Regions from separate parts of the Homo sapiens genome. Here region 1 is linked to region 2. A link means that fine-mapping ties the variant in region 2 to the expression of a gene that starts in the linked region. Tissue or cell type: whole blood. Region 2 holds a variant in brackets; the other region holds the start of a gene. All regions are shown on one strand. Distances are between the middles of the regions.

Region 1 (8,090 bases), 110 kb after region 2:
GTTTGAACTTGAATCCATAAGAAACCCGCCTATGAATGACATCCCCCATTTCCTATATTATCCTCAGATCTGAAAGGCAAGGCTACTACCAAGCCTTCACCCCTTTACATTCCAGCCAACACCTTTACTCTTCGTGATTCCAAGCTGAGGGTAATGGGAATAATTAACTTAACCAACTGCCTGAATATCTATTCTTGGATAGGTGCTAGACAGAGATACAGCAGTGAACATCACGACCCCATCAACACCACCACTACCACCACACCATTGTCCCTGATTTCCAGTACAAGATATCTCAAAACAGAGTTCGGAAAGCCCAACCGCTATGGAGTCCCTGACCAGACTGCCAGTTCACTTAGGGGCCAGGGCCAGAAGCAAGAGGGTCTATAACCAGCTTATTCTCCTCTCCCTCACCCCATTTTACAGGAAGGTCCAGGAAGGAGAGGTGGGTTGCCCAAAGTCAGACAGTTGAGAGTGTGCTGAAACTCCAACCCATGTTCTGTGGGTCTCCTCTCTCCACCACATTGCTTTTGCCAAGGTTCCAAAATTGGAAAGTGAGGAAAAACAGTTGGTTCTAGTGACAGAGTGTTTCCTGACATATGCATGCCCAGAACCTGCAGCCTCAACCATCTTAACAACACAGACCTGGTGACCATGTCCATCTCTCGGGATGCTCATGAATGCACAGTATTGATCTAGAGTCCAAGTGTCCAGTTTTCATTCATGCTCATTTATCACCTTCTCTCTCTCCTGATATTTACTTTCACTTTAAAATCTTATAAGAACAGGGCCTTTTTTTATCTGATGCCAGCTCCCCCTCTGTTCCTTGGATTTAATCAATCCATGTCTGGAAATAAACAAACCAGGGAGGAAAGCAACAGTCCCTTTTGTGAAAACAGGCACCTTTCTAAAATGATCTACCCCTGGGCATGACGCAGATAGAATTTAAATGTGAAGGAAATAAAGACATTCTCCAGCAACCATCATATGCGTTCTTCCTGGGGTGGGACAGCAGGAATGGTAACTGTTAACAACTAAACCAAAACCCACTCTACATCTTTCAGGTTGTCGTGAGAGCGTGGTCAGTGGCAGGAAGCCTGAAGAGACAATAGGTTTCAAAACAACAGAAACCAGCCCTCTCTTCTTCAAGATTAGTAAGAGAGGGCTAGCTGAACACCAACTCCAAGTATATGCAGCATGCCTCCAGCTAGTACCAGGGGTGCAAGGAGATACCAGCTAGAAAGATCCAGACATCTGGTCACCAACTTAGACCTTCTCCCATCATGTTATTTTATACCCACCTGCAAAGCACAGAATCCTCACCCCTCTTCCCACCCTCCAGCCACTCCAGCAAGCATCATCCCAGACTCTGCTGGCAAAATAAATTGTCTTACACAGAGAGGGAGAATCAAGTTCCCTACTAGCCAGCCCTTCCTTCCTGCCATGACTCTCCAGCCCCTGGCATTCGGAAATGGACCACCATCTAAATGCAAACACAGAGAGTATCTCTTCTGAGGAAGATGATAGTTAATTCTTAATCCTTTGGGGGATCAGTTTGAAAATCTGATGGCACCTCTGGATGCCCCATGAAAAACTGCATGCATGCAATTTATATGTAATTTCACTGGGGGTCACTGCCCTACTGGGAGGTCGAGAGGGGCAAAAAGAGCCACTGTGCTCAGAAGCAGCTTTGAGAAAGAGCTATGGGTGGTCCAAGTGAGTATTCAACAGCGTAGTTCCTTAACAAGAAAGGGAGAAATGAATGCCCCTTACTTAGCTACTGCAAGTTCCAGCTGTCACTCAACCTGAGATTTCAACAGGAATCTGGAAACTGAGAGCACACAAACATGCACACACACATACACACCAAGCACTCAGTTTCCCTGTGGCTTCCTACTGTAACTTCACAAAATGTCCTGTGATTGCTAGTTAAGTCTCCAAACAGAGTAACAGAAAAGATAAGAAGTGGAAGAGAGGTGGGCGCTGGAAGGGAGGATGGTTCAGACAAGGAGAAGGGGATAATCTGGCTAAGCCCTCCATCGGCTCTGAGCAGGTCTTGACAGGGCAGGTCCTGATCCTTGCTGCCTGCTCTTCCTGGAAATCAGGGTCGAACTGCTGACTTCTTCGCAGCAAATCAAGAAGTCCAGGCAGAAGCAGCCCTTTCTTTCCTTTGAGTCCATGGGGAGGGGAGAGCATCCTCTCGTTTCTAGGGAGGAGACCCTGGCCCACAGCTTGCCCACGGCCCCCTCGTGGCCTGGGGGTGTCACTGCAGCCCCCTCTGCATTGCTGGGCACCATCCGCACGCAGGCAGTTCTAACAGTGGTCCAGCAGAATATTTAGTGGCAGTGGCAAGCTGGCAACTGTCTTCAAGCCTTGTGAGGCTGTGTTTGCTTTTGATTTCTTAAACTAAGACTCAGACTTAAAGTGATCCTTCTAAATCCCTCCTGGTACAATCCCTACAGGGAACCAGCTCAAGATCTGCTTCATTATGCCAATAACCTCGGAGCTTCTGTAATATGACCACTGCTTTATCATCTCTTCCTGCATCATATGCAATTATGTACAATTGTGTACAATTGTTCTGAAGCTCAATAAGCTCAATAGAAACAGAATGCACAACATCCTCTGGTTTGTAGGTTGCTTACTAGATTACAAAATATTTGCAGGACACCAAATACCCCCTTAAATCCTGGGTTTTTAGGTAAGCAGGTCCTATAGGGGTTTTGGACTTAAGGTCACACAGTGAAAAAGAATGGGACCAGTGGCTCTGTGTCCACAAATGCAAAAAGAGGGTGCACTAAGGAACCTGAACTCCACTCTCATTAGCAACTCCACAAAGGGAAGGAGTGGAGCTCACTGGGCCTGGGGGTTGGATACGACATACCAGAGTCTGGGAGTGAGGGGGCAGTTGGTCTAGGGGTTCAGCTGCCATCTGTCACGGTGGGGACGATTAACTGACCCGAGTGGTGGGAAACTGTGTAGGGAGGAAAGAAGGTGGGACATTTGGGAGGAAAGGGGAAGGTGCAAAGTGCAGTCTGCAGGGCCAGAAGTAGACCTGGGACCAGGAGTGACTGAGGCAAGGGAAAGGGGTGGGAGCGCCAGAGGGTCTTCTCTCCTTAGAGGGGGCAGTTGGTGGGAGGAGTTTGGGGGCTGAGTCCATACCTCCTTGATTTTCTCCCGCTGGGCTCGCACTTGGCTCTGGGGCTCCTGACTCTCATCGGCCCTCGTTCCCAGGACCGGGTGGCGGAGACGGCTCCGGAATGCGTTGAAGTCAAAGCGGAAAGGGACGCCCTCGTCCCCGGGCCTGGAGGCCGGGATGCTATTGCCCCGGGCCGCCGTGGCCTCCTCGCGGGGTCCAGTGGGGCGGGTGCGCCGCAGCCCCCCTTTCCTGCGGCGGGGACTGGCCCAGCTGCTGGGGTCATCCTCGCCCGGGGCCGGCGCGGCGGGGGCCGGGTTGGGAGGCGGCTCCTGCTCGCGGGCCGGGGCATGGCCGGCGATTTCAGCCACCACTTCCAGACCAGGCTGCTGGGTCCGGGGGGCCAGGAAGAGGCGCTTGAGGCGAGAGGAGTGGGGCAGCAGGAAGAGGGCCCCGAAGCACAGGGTGACCAGGCCCGAGAGGAAGAGGAGGAAGAGGAACTTCTGCGGCAGCCGCAGCCCCCACGGGGAGGCCGGGACGAAGCCGGGCACTTTCCTCATGAGCATCGTGGCCCGGCCGGTGGCTCCAGAAGCCCTCGGAGTCCAGGCACGTGTCTGCGGGGGCGCGGTGAGGGGAGGGCGTCCGGAGCGCCGCCCGGGATGGGGGTCCCTGGGCAGGGTTGCCAACCCTGAGAGTTTCGCCGCTTCGGGGGACTGTCCCCGAAGTTCAGGGAGTTTGGAGCGAGTCCTCCCGCGAGGAGGCGGGGGCGCAGCGGCCTCGGCGGGGCCCGGGCGAGCGGAGCGGCACGGCTTGGGGCCCGGGCCCGCAGCGACCGGCCGCGCGCCGCAGCCTCCCCTCCGGCCGAGCCCTCCCCGCCGCGCCGGGGCCCGCGCCTTCCCGCGCTGCGGCCGCCGGGACCGTCACATGCCGTCCGCGGCGTCCCGGCTGTCCGCGCCGAGGGGCGCCCGCAGGCCCGCACCAAGCCGCCCTCCGCCCCCTAGGCTCCCGCCCGCGCTGGTAGGCGCCCAAAGTTTCAGCTTCAGAAGCAGTTTCCGGAGGGGACCGAGGCGATGGGGGGCTGGCGTGTCAGCGCCGCCCCGAGCGCGCGCACACCCGGCCCGGTCGCGACAGCGCCCGGGCTCGACTATCGGGACACGTCCACAACTTTCTCCGCCGCGGAGAGGGCGCCGGGAGCTGGGAGCCGGAGTGGCCAGGGAGCAGGAGCAGGCACTTCCGAGCCTGCGGGGGCAGGGGGCTTCCCCCGGGCCCCAGACAGCGCAGGGATGCCTGGGTCCGGAGCCGCGGCTGGGCGGCTGCAGATGCGCCCGGGAGCGCGGGCTCCCGCCCCTCGAACTCGGCAGGGCGCGGGGCTCCCACTGGGATCACCTGTTCCCGGCCCCGCCGGCTCCGCGGAGCGCGCAGCCCTGGCCGCGCCTCCCCCGCTGCAGCTGTCTTCCTCGCAGCGGCCGCTCCAGACCGGCCGCTGCCGCCGAGCCTGCGCCCCACACGCGCGCACAGCCACCCGGCCGCCTCCACCGCCGTCCCCGCCGCCGCCGCCGCTCGGGCTTTCACTGCGACAGCGCCCGCCGCCCCGCCTCCTGCCGCCCGCCGGCCACGCCCGCCGGCCACGCCCACGCGCGCGCCCCGCGCCCCCTCCCGCCGCCGCCGCGCCGCAGCCGGCTGAGGGCCGCGCGTCCGGGGGCGGGGCAGAGGCCGAGCGCGGGCGGGAGCGCAGCCCGCTCCAAGCCCCGCCCTCCCCGAAGGGCAGGCGTCGCGCGCACCCCCCATCCAGCGGGCGCCAATGGTCCAGCGGCGCGGGGCAGGCGAGGGCGGGGGCGGAGAGCGCAACGAGGGCATTGGCTGCATCCGAGGGATCCCCGTTGGGCCACAGTCGTCCATTGGTTACTGCCCAGCCTTCGCTGGACCCCAAGCGACAGAGACCACCCCCCAGCCCGCCCGCGAGGCTCGGGTTGGTGGCCCCCGGAAGCGGGCCGGAGACGGTGTTGCTCTGGAGGGGTGTGCCCGTCGCTGGGTGACCTCTCTCGCCCCCGAGTGCCAGCCCGGGGTTGTCAGGGAGCTGGCAGCCCGCGCCCTGGCGGCTGCCCCGGGCTTCTCAGCGCTAACGCCGGGCTGCAGGGGTGCTGCTGGTGGCTGGAGCCAAGCCAGAGAGCTGTGACCGCGGCCGGGTCGGCGGAGGTGATGTTTCCACTGGCCCCCTCGCAGACCACTGGCGTGCCTTCCTTTTCCCACAACCCTAAACGGGGCCAGGGCTCCTGGGTGGAGCACGGAGGGAGGCTGACCGCAGCCTTGAGAAGCAGCGAAAGGAAGAGAGCCCCGGGCGTGTCTACAGAAGACCACACACATAATGTGACGGACGTCTACCTTGATGCCTACGTGTGTTTATATGCACATGTGTGCGTCTGGGCATAGATCTATATGCACACAGAGACTGGCATGTGGGTGTGTACATGCACTCAAACATACACTTAATTTGGGTATGGACACCCAAGTGATTATACCACAGTATGCATAGACATATATGTAAATTAGTACAAACATGGACATGTGCACCCGCATACCCACAGACACTCAGGCAACAGATAACCTCCAAAAACAGCCAGGCATCAACTCCCAGACACGCGTGTCCTCAACCCCAAGGCCCTCACATCTTCCTCCTTGGACTTAGTCTCTGCATCTTCCCTTCCTGTTAAACCTAACCCAGGGTGAAGCAACATTGTGCTGTGTGGGTCTTTCATGCAAAACACTTTATAGAGACAAATAACAGCAGAGGGAGAGACAAATTAAGAGGTTTGTAATAGGCAAGAGGGAAAATATCTACTTTCAGCTGCAATTTAAAATGAAATGCAGTGTTGACGAGACAGAAAATACTGCAGGGAAGCCTTTCCCGACAGAAGAAGCGGGCCAGGCAGGCTCTCGCCTCGTAAATCTTGCTTCTTCCCTGAGGCCTGCTGGGGATGGGCGGCTGGGACTCAGTCATCCTTCTACCTCTGGCCAGACCACTGACAGCAGACCCACCCTCGATGTTTAAATATCCCTGGCATGCAACTTTCTCTCAACTGAAAATGAAAGTGGGTAACAGGTGCAAACATTTTGGTCACTGGAGATGACTAATCCTTCCCAATCCCACAAATATATGCAGCTTAAATATAAAATTCTAATTCAGATATTTCAATCTCTTGTGAGTTTCGTTGGCAGGTTGATGTGGAGCCAGCTGTGCAAATCAGAGATAAGCATGTGACCCATTTGGGTGCAGGAGCCCAGAGACCTGGCCTGGCCTCACCCATGTCTCCAACACCCAAGCATCGCCTCACTGGGTCCCACTGCAGGAAAGGGCAACCTTGTCTTTGGAGAACCAGGCAGGGACCCAGCATTCATTAGAGTCATCATCTGTGTTGTTCCTCATTGAGAGTGTAGGGGAATCACTGTTCAGTCCCCTGTGAAGGTAGGATCCAGAAAGGGAGAAGAGCAGAGCTGAATCTCAGAAGGAAATGTCTGTTTGAACTAGATGCTCACTGTGATGTGACACTCTGACCAAACTCTGGTGTGCTCTGTGAGCCAGGGTGGAAAGTGGGGCTGCAGCAGGACTGACGTGCCTTTCACACTCAGGCTATGAAAACCAGAGGCCCCAGCAGGTAACTCCATTGCAAAGTGATGTGATGTTGGTGATCACACCAAGTTGTTGATACCATCACTTGCTAGGGAGATACCAGTCTCTCTAAAAAGCTCTCTGAAACCCTGGGTGTCCCCTTGCCCCACACCTCTAGCCCCCAGAGACCTCATACATCCCGTGGCTCTTCTCCCACTGACTTTTAAAGACTATTGGTGTGTTGTCACAAAGCAGATGCTCAGTTCTTCACCACGGCTTCCTCACTTCTCTAACTCTCTAACTTCTCTAACTGCCCCGGGTCTTAACCACAATGCCTTCCACATGGGCACTGTGTTTGCTCAGTAAATGAATGAAGAAATGAGTGAGTAGATGCCCATTTCACAGATGTAGAAACTGAAGCTCGGGGAATGGAAGAACAGTGAACTAACATTTTCTATGTGCCAAATACATATTGTCTTATTTACTTTTCAGAATAATCTTTGTGGTAGATAATTATTAATAGCCCCATTTTACAGATAAGAATACCAAGGCTTAGAGAGACTTGGGATGAGTTATAAGTATCTATATTAATCAGAGTTCTCCAGAACAGAACCAATAGGCTATATATAGATATATAAAAAGAGATTTATTATGAGGGATTGACTTCTGTGATTATGGAAGGCTGAGAAGTTCCACAATCTGCCATCTGCAATCTGGAGGTCTAAAAAGCTGGTGGTGTAGTTCCAGTCCAAGCCAGGAGGCCTGAGAACCACAAGAGCCGATAGTGTAAATCCCAGTCTGAGTCTGAAGACCCGAGAACCAGGAGAGCTGATGTCCAAGGGCAGGAGAAGATGGATGTTCCAGCTCAAGCACAGAGCATGGATTTGCCATTCCTCTTCCTTTTAGTTCTGTTTCAGCCATCAGTGGATTGGATGCTGCCCACCCATACTGGTAAGGGCAGATCTTCTTTACTCAATTTACTGATTCAATTACTAATCTCTTCCAGAAATTCCCTTACAGACACACCCAGAAGTAATGTTTTACCAGCTATGTAAGCATCCCGTAGCCCAGTCAAATTGACACACAAAATTAACCTTCACAGTATCTTTCTCAGTTTAATTCAGAAATTCAAATGGAACTGGGAACAGAAACAAACAGCTATTTCTAAAAAATCTATTTATTCTGTCAACAAATATTTATTCAAATTAGATGCAAGGTATTGCACTAGTTTTGGACACAAAGGTGAGCAAAGCATGGTCCCTTGTTACTATTGATTCATTCATCCAGTGAAAAACTACTTATTGAACATCTACTATGTGCCAGGTACAGAGAGGCAGGGGATACAGC
Region 2 (8,102 bases):
GGGATTCGCCATGTTGGCCAGGCTTGTCTCAAACTCCTGGCCTCAAGTGATCCACCTGTCTCGGTCTCCCACGAGACAGGCCTGGGATAACAGGCGTGAGCCACCGCGACTGGCCGCCTATGTCTTAATCGTCTTTTCATGTGTTCCACATTCTAGGCAAACTACTGCTTCCATGTGGCCCACTCTCTCCAGCCTCCAGCCCTTTCTTCAAGCTGTTTTCTCTACCTGGCATGCCCTCTTCTAACACACAATGTCCCCACACGTCTCAATCCAATGTCTACTTTAACTTCTAGATAAAATGTTTCTTCCTCCGTGAAGACATCCCTGACTCTCCCACGTGGATCTGAGGTTTTTCTCCTCTGAACGTTTATATCAAAGGCATTGTTTCTCAACTTCTATTACAGTAATTTGTGTCCTTTTCTCAAGTCCATTCCAGGCAGGGAGTGTCTTCATGGCTAGATCTAAGCCTGGTTGATTTAAGCCTACACAGACCCTGCAGGGTCAAGGTGCCTTTGGGATCTGCGGAGTGAAGGATTGGACACCCTCCCTGCACTGCCTCTATGTGAGGAGGCCACCTAGACAGCCAGTGCCCTGGCCAGAGGCAATTCCTCTGTGGTGTGAGGTGCTGGGAGCCAGACACTGACTCCATGAGGCTCTGAGATCCTAGCCCAGGGTGGACACCCCCACAAAAGCTTCTTGTGGAATGTGGAATTCTAAATGCCAGCCAACCCTTCCTTATCAGAAGTTAAGAACAATCCTTTTTTGCCTGGCACTGTGCTGTTTGTTTCACATCCATCTTTTAAAAACTCTATCATTGGGCCAGGTGCAGTGGCTCATGCCAGTAATCCCAGTACTTTGAAAGGCTGAGGTGGGTGGATCATTTGAGGCCAGGAGTTCGAGACCAGCCTGGCCAACATGGTGAAACCCCATCTCTACTAAAAATACAAAAGTCAGCTGGGCATGGTGGTGCACACCTGTAGTCCTAGCTACTTAGGAGGGTGTGGCATGAGAATCGCTTGAACCCATGAGGTGGAGGTTGCAGTGAGCCGTGATTGCGCTACTGCACTCCAGCCTGGGTGACAGAGAGAGACTCTGTCTCAAAAATAAATAAATTAAAATAAATTAAAAATCAAAAAAATAAAAGCTCGGCTGGGCGCAGTGGCTCACGCCTGTAATCCCAGCACCTTGGGAGGCCGAGGTGGGCGGATCACGAGGTCAGGAGATCAAGACCATCCTGGCTAACACGGTGAAACCCCATCTCTACTAAAAATATAAAAAATTAGCCGGGCGTGGTGGCGGGCGCCTGTAGTCCCAGCTACTCAGGAGGCAGAGGCAGGAGAATGGCGTGAGCACGGGAGGCGGAGCTTGCAGCAAGCCAAGATCACACCACTGCACTCCAGCCTGGGCGACAGAGAAAGACTCCGTCTCAAAAAAAAATAAAAATAAAAATAATAAATAAATAAATAAACAAAATAAAAACTCATTGTCCCCCTCTTACAGACGAAGATTGAGGCTTAGAGGAATTAAGTCACTTGTTCAAGATTCATTCATTCATTCATCCCAAATGTATTTTTTGGGTACTCGGGGTGTGCCTGGCACTGGAGCCTAGTGGAATGAGGGGAAAGACACACAGAGACACATCTAAATGTAACGTGTGTGATGCAGAAAAACAGAGTGGCTAAGGAGGAGCTCCATTTAGGTGTGGCGGGGGAGCACAGCCAGGAGATGGGCAGCGTTCGGGCAGAGGCTTGAAGGAGGCCCAGGAGAAAGGGGCCAAGGGCACGGCGGGCAGAATGCACAGCACATTGAAAATCCCAAGATAAAGGTTGTGTGCAGCGGGAAAGGGGGAAAGTAGTGGGCAGTGAGGGGGTGGAGGCCAGATCACACATGGCCCTGGGGCTTCAAGAAAGGGGGTCTGGATGGCTTAGGAACTGGATCTGACTGGCTGCTGTATGATGAGTGGCTGGGCCCAACGGGACTCCAGAGCTACCCATCTTGGTTTGGTGAATTGTCCTCTAGGCACTTACGGATGAGGAGGACGGGGGCAGGAGCACCTGGGTCTGTGCTTTGAGACCCTGTGAAGGCAGCTGGAGATGCTCCCCAGCTGTGGGGGTAGCTGTTTACCAGTCCAGGAACAAGAATTCAACAAGACCACAGGGCATGTGAGCCAGGTGCCTCACCTCAGCTCCTGGGGGAGCCTCCAGCTGTCTTTGACAGTGCCAGAGCCTCCCAGGCCCACGGACACAGGGTTGCAGTGCTGTCTTGGGTATACATTGTGGCCACACAGAGCTATGCATTGATCATGGCAAACACGGCCTGTGGACCACAGCCAAGAGGTGCAGATGCATGGCTCTGATAACAAGATTAATGATGATTATTGGAAAGGAGAAAAGAAAGGAAATCAAAGAGGTCCCATTCACCCCTGTAAAACATTAAGAGATAGCAGAGGCAGTGCCAGGAGAGCCTGGTAGGGAGCTGAGCCCCAGGGAGGGTCTTTGTAGTTGCTGGGATAGCTTAGCTGCAGGCAGTGGGCCAGCAGAATGGGTTGAGTCCTGGAAACCCACGCTTGGATCCACCACTTACTAGCTGCCTCAGTTTCCTCATCCTCCACAGTGGGAGCAAGACCTCCACCTTGCAAACCATCCTGAGGGCTAGAGATCATGCAAAATGCCGGACGCCGCAGACGCAAACCTGCGTGAAGGCCGACACCATGTTGCTGAGCGCACCACAGACAGCACCTCTTTTAAGTCTCACAACACCTGAGGAGGAGGGTGCAATTCCTGCCCCTGTTTTACAGATGGGGAAACTGAGGCTTAGAGAATCATCTAAACCTCCCAGGGCTGATGAACAGGGAGCCAGGACTCAACTCTGGCCATCTTCCCTGGTTGCTCTGCCCTTCACTGCTGTGCCATTCCATTCCTGCACAACTTGGGAGACTGGGCCTGGTTTGGAGGGTCCAAGAAGGTCCCAGGGAAGTACTCTTGGCTTTGAGACCACAGGCTACCTCCTGAAGGCCTGTGGCTTAGCCTGACCCTATCTCCCACCTCTGGGCTGGAGCAAGGCCCCCCTGCAGCAGGCACTACCTTGCAGAGAGCTGCCGCCTCTCCCTAGGAGCCTGGGCACCCTCTGCAGGAGCCCCCCCAGATGCCCTCGAGGGATGGCTCTTCTTACCTACACCATTCTGGGCCCCACCACTGATCCCCTGGCCCAGGCTCACTCATAGGAGGGTCTGAGTTGGTCTTTTTCTCTGACAGATGGTAGCCCTGGAAGGAAGAGATCCTGCCAGATGCATCTTTGGAGCCACCAAAGAGCCTAGTGTGATGCCAGGTGCATGGTAGGTTTGGAGTAAATATATAGTAAATTAACCCTGACATAGAACAGAGCAGGAGCCGAGAGCACACATGACCACAGGCCAGACAGGTGGCCTTCTCTCCATCAGGCCATGACGAATCCATCTGGTTTACTCCCAGCATCAGTAAAGAGGAGACCAGCCCACACTCCTATAGACCAAGGGCCTCCCTTTTCTTTGGTCCACAGGCCCCTTCCAGAACCTCACAGAAGCCACTCAGGCTTCCCCTTGCCAGACTTACCTGTGTTAGAGAGGGAGGAAGGAGCCTGAGACAGATTCCTACAAAGGACAGAGTAGGGCAGAAACTTTGGAATCAGGTAGACTTAGAATAAAATCATAATTGTCCTATTACTAGCTGTGTGACTTCTGGTCAGCTACCTTATCTCATGAGCCTCAACATCCTCCTCTGTGAAATGCAGATAATGTAGACGACTGAAGCCACTGATGCTAGTGGATACACAATGAGGTTTGTTTTCCTTAAATGTAAATGGACTACAGAGGATACCTATGAGTTGCCTCTCATTTGATGATGATGATGATGATGATGATGATGATGATGACGATGATGATGATTATTGTTATTTTTTGAGTCAGGGTCTCACTCTGTTGTCCAAGCTGCAGTGCAGTGGCACGATCACAGCTCACTGCAGCCTTGACTTCCCTGGGCTCACGTGATCCTCCCACCTCAGCCTCCTGAGTAGCTGGACTACATGAGCATGCCACCACGCCTGGCTAATTTTTTTGTACAGACGGGGTTTCGCCATGTTGCCCAGGCTGGTCTCAAACTCCTGGGCTCAGGCGGTCTGTCCACCTCGACCTCCCAAAGTGCTGGGATTACAGGCATGAGCCACCAGGCCTGGCCTCATTTGATTTTTTTAAAGCAGCAGCGATTGTGGGGGAAGCACAGGCTTGTGGTCAAACCATGTGCCTTGGCTCTGTGGCTTACCAGCCTGTGACCACAGCCAAATGAC[T/G]TAACCTCTCTGAGCCAGCAGCGAGTCTGCATCTGTCCAAGGTACTAGCAATAACCCTGTCGCAGATGTGGGTGGCCTGAATCAGGTGAAGGGTGCAGGACTCCATGAACAGAGTCTGGCAGGAGAGTGAAAAGGAGGAGGAAGTGCCCACACAGGGAGAACCCCCTCCCCGCTTGCCCTGTCCACCCACCCACAGCCAAGCCAGGCCTCATCCAGTCGTGACAGCCCTGAGCATGCTTCTGGGGCAAGAACTGCCTCTGTTTCAGACCTCAGTGCCCAAACAATTCACAAATGCAGCAAACGTGCCACGGCCCAGGAGACAGCTCTCCGCTTCAGAGAAAACACACAGTTCAATTTCCTAAAGATCGAAGCCCAGGAGCATTTCAAGGCTTTCCTGGCGAGAGCAGTTCTCAGAACTCAGGAGGCACCACCCTCATGTGACTGAACAATTAAAGCCCCTAGTATTTGTCATTCTCAGCTAAGGTTTTCGAGGATGGCTGAGAAAACTAAAAAAAAAAAAAAATCTGATTTTGGCAGTGTGGCTTTCAGAAATATATGGTAATCCATTTTTGTCAATTCACAGAAGGCACAGCTCAAATCATTAAAAAGCCATCGTGCTTAATCATGCGTGGAGAAGGCCAGTCTCTGCCTCTGAGATCATTTTAAAACGGTTTCAGGGTAACTGTCAAAAACTGACAGGGAAGCAGGGAGGGGATTATGACAGACCATAATCTGAGGAATTTCTCTTTCTGGTTCTCAAAGGGTAAGGGATTTATCTGAGAGGAAATCACCACCCAGACCTTGGCCTTGGTGCTGGTGGGGACAGTGGTGAGGAAGATTCTAGGATGCATCAGGCCTGACCTCTGTCCTTACGGAGGCTGCAGCTGCTTTCTCAGAAAGACAGTAAGCAATTTCCCAGCAAAACAGCAAGTAAATGAATGATTATGAAGCCTTGTGACAGGTGCTAAGAATAGGTGGAAGTTTATGCAGCTGTTAAGGCCTGGCTGTGAGCCACGGGGACCTGGGTTTGGAATTTGACTTTGCCACTCTGCAGCTGTGTGACCTCACACACACTCCTCACAGACCTGGGTTCCTCATCTAGAAAATGGGATGCCTGGCCAGGCACGGGGGCTCATGCCTGTAATCCCAACACTTTGGGAGACCGAGGTGGGCAGATCATGAGGTCAAGAGATGGAGACTATCCTGGCCAACATGGTGACACCCTGTCTCTATTAAAAATATAAAAATTAGCTGGGCGTGGTGGTGGGCGCCTGTAGTCCCAGCTACTCGGGAGGCTGAGGCAGGAGAATTGCTTGAACCCTGGAGGCAGAGGTTGCAGTGAGCCGAGATCATGCCATTGCACTCCAGCCTGGGTGACAGAACTAGATCACATCATTGCACTCCAGCCTGGGCAACAGAGCGAGACACCATCTCAAAAAAAAAAAAAAGAAGAAAAAGAAAATGGGACGCCTGCCTTGTAGGCTTGGGAGCTCAATGAGTTAATTCCTGGGAAGCTTTTATTGCAGTGCCTGGTACACAGTAAGCTCTCAATAAATGCTGGCCGAGTGGCTAACTCTGCTCAGGAAGCCTCATGGACCTGTGATGGATCGGGAAGGATGAGCAGGAACCCGCAGGGTGGAGAGCAACAGGGGGGACATTCCAGGCAGAGAGCACAGCATGTGCAAAGGCCCTGAGGTAGGAAGCTGGTCAGGGAGGAGCATAGGTTTCGGGGGAGGGAATAAGGGGAGCAATGTGGCCAGTCAGCTGGAGCCATCCTGGGAAAGACTTCAAATGCAGGCCAAGGGGTTTGGTCTCTATGTTGAGGGCCATGAGGAGCCACAGAGGGGTGTCTCAGGGCTGGGCCATGAGCAAACCATGTACATTAGAAGCTAACGAAGGGGCAAGAGGCTGCCGAGAAGGCTGGAACAGCATTTGGAGATCCAGAATCCTTCTGGGGTCAGAGCCACACAGCGAGTCTTCTTCCAGGTCTCAGACCACACTGGGCACTTGTTGACGCCTAGGTGACCAAACTCTCACTAGGGGTCCCCAGCCTTTATTTGAGGGTAATATCCTCTACTGTGCCAGCAACGATTCTGCACCAGTTCCCCTTCCTTAGACAGAGCCGTTGAAGGGAAATAGCCGCCCAGGCAGGCACTGCGTTTCCCAGCCTTTCTGCATCTAGGTGGAGCCGCAGGACCCAATGGGGTGTGGGCATAGGCTCCATACACCACTTTGAGGCCTGGCCCATAAAAACCATTCATGGATATTCCAAGGCCGAGGCAATCTTGGGTGTTACAACCTGAAGATGATGGCGCCTCCATCACCCTGAGTGCCTGAGTCATCAGAGGGAACAGAGCTCTCCCCACCATCAATATGACTTTACATGAGCAAGAAAGAAATGTCTGTTGTCTCCAAGCACTGAAGTCTCTGGGTTTATCTGTCACAGCAGCCAGCATTACCCTAAACAGACCCACCAGGCAGAATGACCTTGAGCACTTCACCTCCCTGAGCCTGTTTCTCTCAAACAGATTGTTGTGAGTGCCTAATACGATGACAAGTGTGAGTGCTTTGCAAGCAGCGAGGAACCACAGAGATCCGTCTGTCATGGGGTTACTGGCTTTGGTCCCTCTGAGAACCCGAGGTTGCAGAGGGGAGGGGACTCCGGCCAGTCCCTGCTGAGGCAGGGGAGTGCAGCAGCTAAGGCCCGGAGAAGCTCGCAGCAGGGGCTCAAGATCCACCAGCAGGTCCTGGCCTAGGCTGGGGACTCTCACTCCAGGCTTTAGTTCAGCCCTTTGAGAGATGCTCCTCAAATAGCTGAGCCGCCCAAAGGGAGGAGGCTGGGGCCTGGCTTCCATCTCCTGGAAGCTGCCCCGGGAAGCAGTCCTCCCAGCCTCTCTCTGATAACTTGTTCCAACCTCTCACAACTCATTAACAGGAAACTGCATTCCCTGCCAGGAAGACGCACGCCTGATTTTTCAGACATGGCAGGTAGACTGTGTTATCAAAGCCTTGTCATGTGTCTGCACGGCCCCCACGCTCTCCTGCTCTCTGGTGTCCTCGGCCAGGCTCTGTGCTCAGAGCATGCATTGCCTTTGGATGTGGCTGGGCAATCTGCCAGCTTGTCTGGCCAGGGCCAGGGGCCCAGGATGGATTCCCGTGAGGGTGGCTGAGGCTCAGCCTGTACCCCGCTCCTAAGCATCCCACACTCCCTGCCCAGAACTGGGGCTGAGACCCCACAGGGGGACAGGGTGGGGAAGGCCTGAGCAACACAGGATGTGAAGAGCTGTCTCTGGCCTCAGTGACTTTCACACAGAATACCATGGGCACTCCGTGTCCTTTTGCTGCAGGGTTCCTCTGCCATAGCTTTGGGATGGGGGTAGAGAATGCTCACCCCCAGCCTCTGGAGCCTGGAGTCGGGGGCAAGGCCATTTTGTCCTGCACGTATCCCCCACTGTCCCGTTCTCGGGCAGGGTGGGTGCAGACACCAACCTCCTCCACCTCCCATGCTGTCTCATTCCTTCACACAGTCGCTCACCGCCTCTCACTGGGGACCCGTGAGGAGTTCTCAAATCACCTGGCAGAGGAAATACCACCAGTGCCCTGGACTACGACAAGGACATGAAGTATCCATTTCCAAAGTCTATCCACAGGCAGGACTTAGTCTGTTTGTTCCTTATCCCCACCCTGAGCAGTGTTGTTAAACCCGGTTCACAGAGGAGGAATTTAAATGACTAGTGCCTAAGGTCATCCAGCTAGTCCACTGGGTAGTAATCTGAGCTGGG

The links. PIP is the estimated chance that this variant, and not a neighbour inherited with it, causes the effect.
Region 1: MAN1C1 starts here. The variant in region 2 is fine-mapped to the expression of MAN1C1 in whole blood (TOPMed, PIP above 0.99). The same link has a PIP of 0.9 or more in blood mononuclear cells, lung and monocytes.

Annotation. Positions count from the first base shown.
Region 1 is chr1:25,613,410-25,621,499 of GRCh38, reverse strand. It overlaps MAN1C1 (mannosidase alpha class 1C member 1), which reads right to left and starts at 4,709. Exons shown (of 12, transcript NM_020379.4): 1 at 3,163-4,709. The coding sequence starts at 3,702. RefSeq lists enhancers at 1-149, 1,018-1,067, 5,274-5,443 and silencers at 4,484-4,773, 4,794-5,083.
Region 2 is chr1:25,727,144-25,735,245 of GRCh38, reverse strand. The region is part of intron 2 of MAN1C1 (mannosidase alpha class 1C member 1); the gene reads right to left. Among named protein-coding and RNA genes, the nearest start is that of SELENON, 69 kb to the left of the region's middle. The variant T/G (reference allele first, on the strand shown) is at 4,321.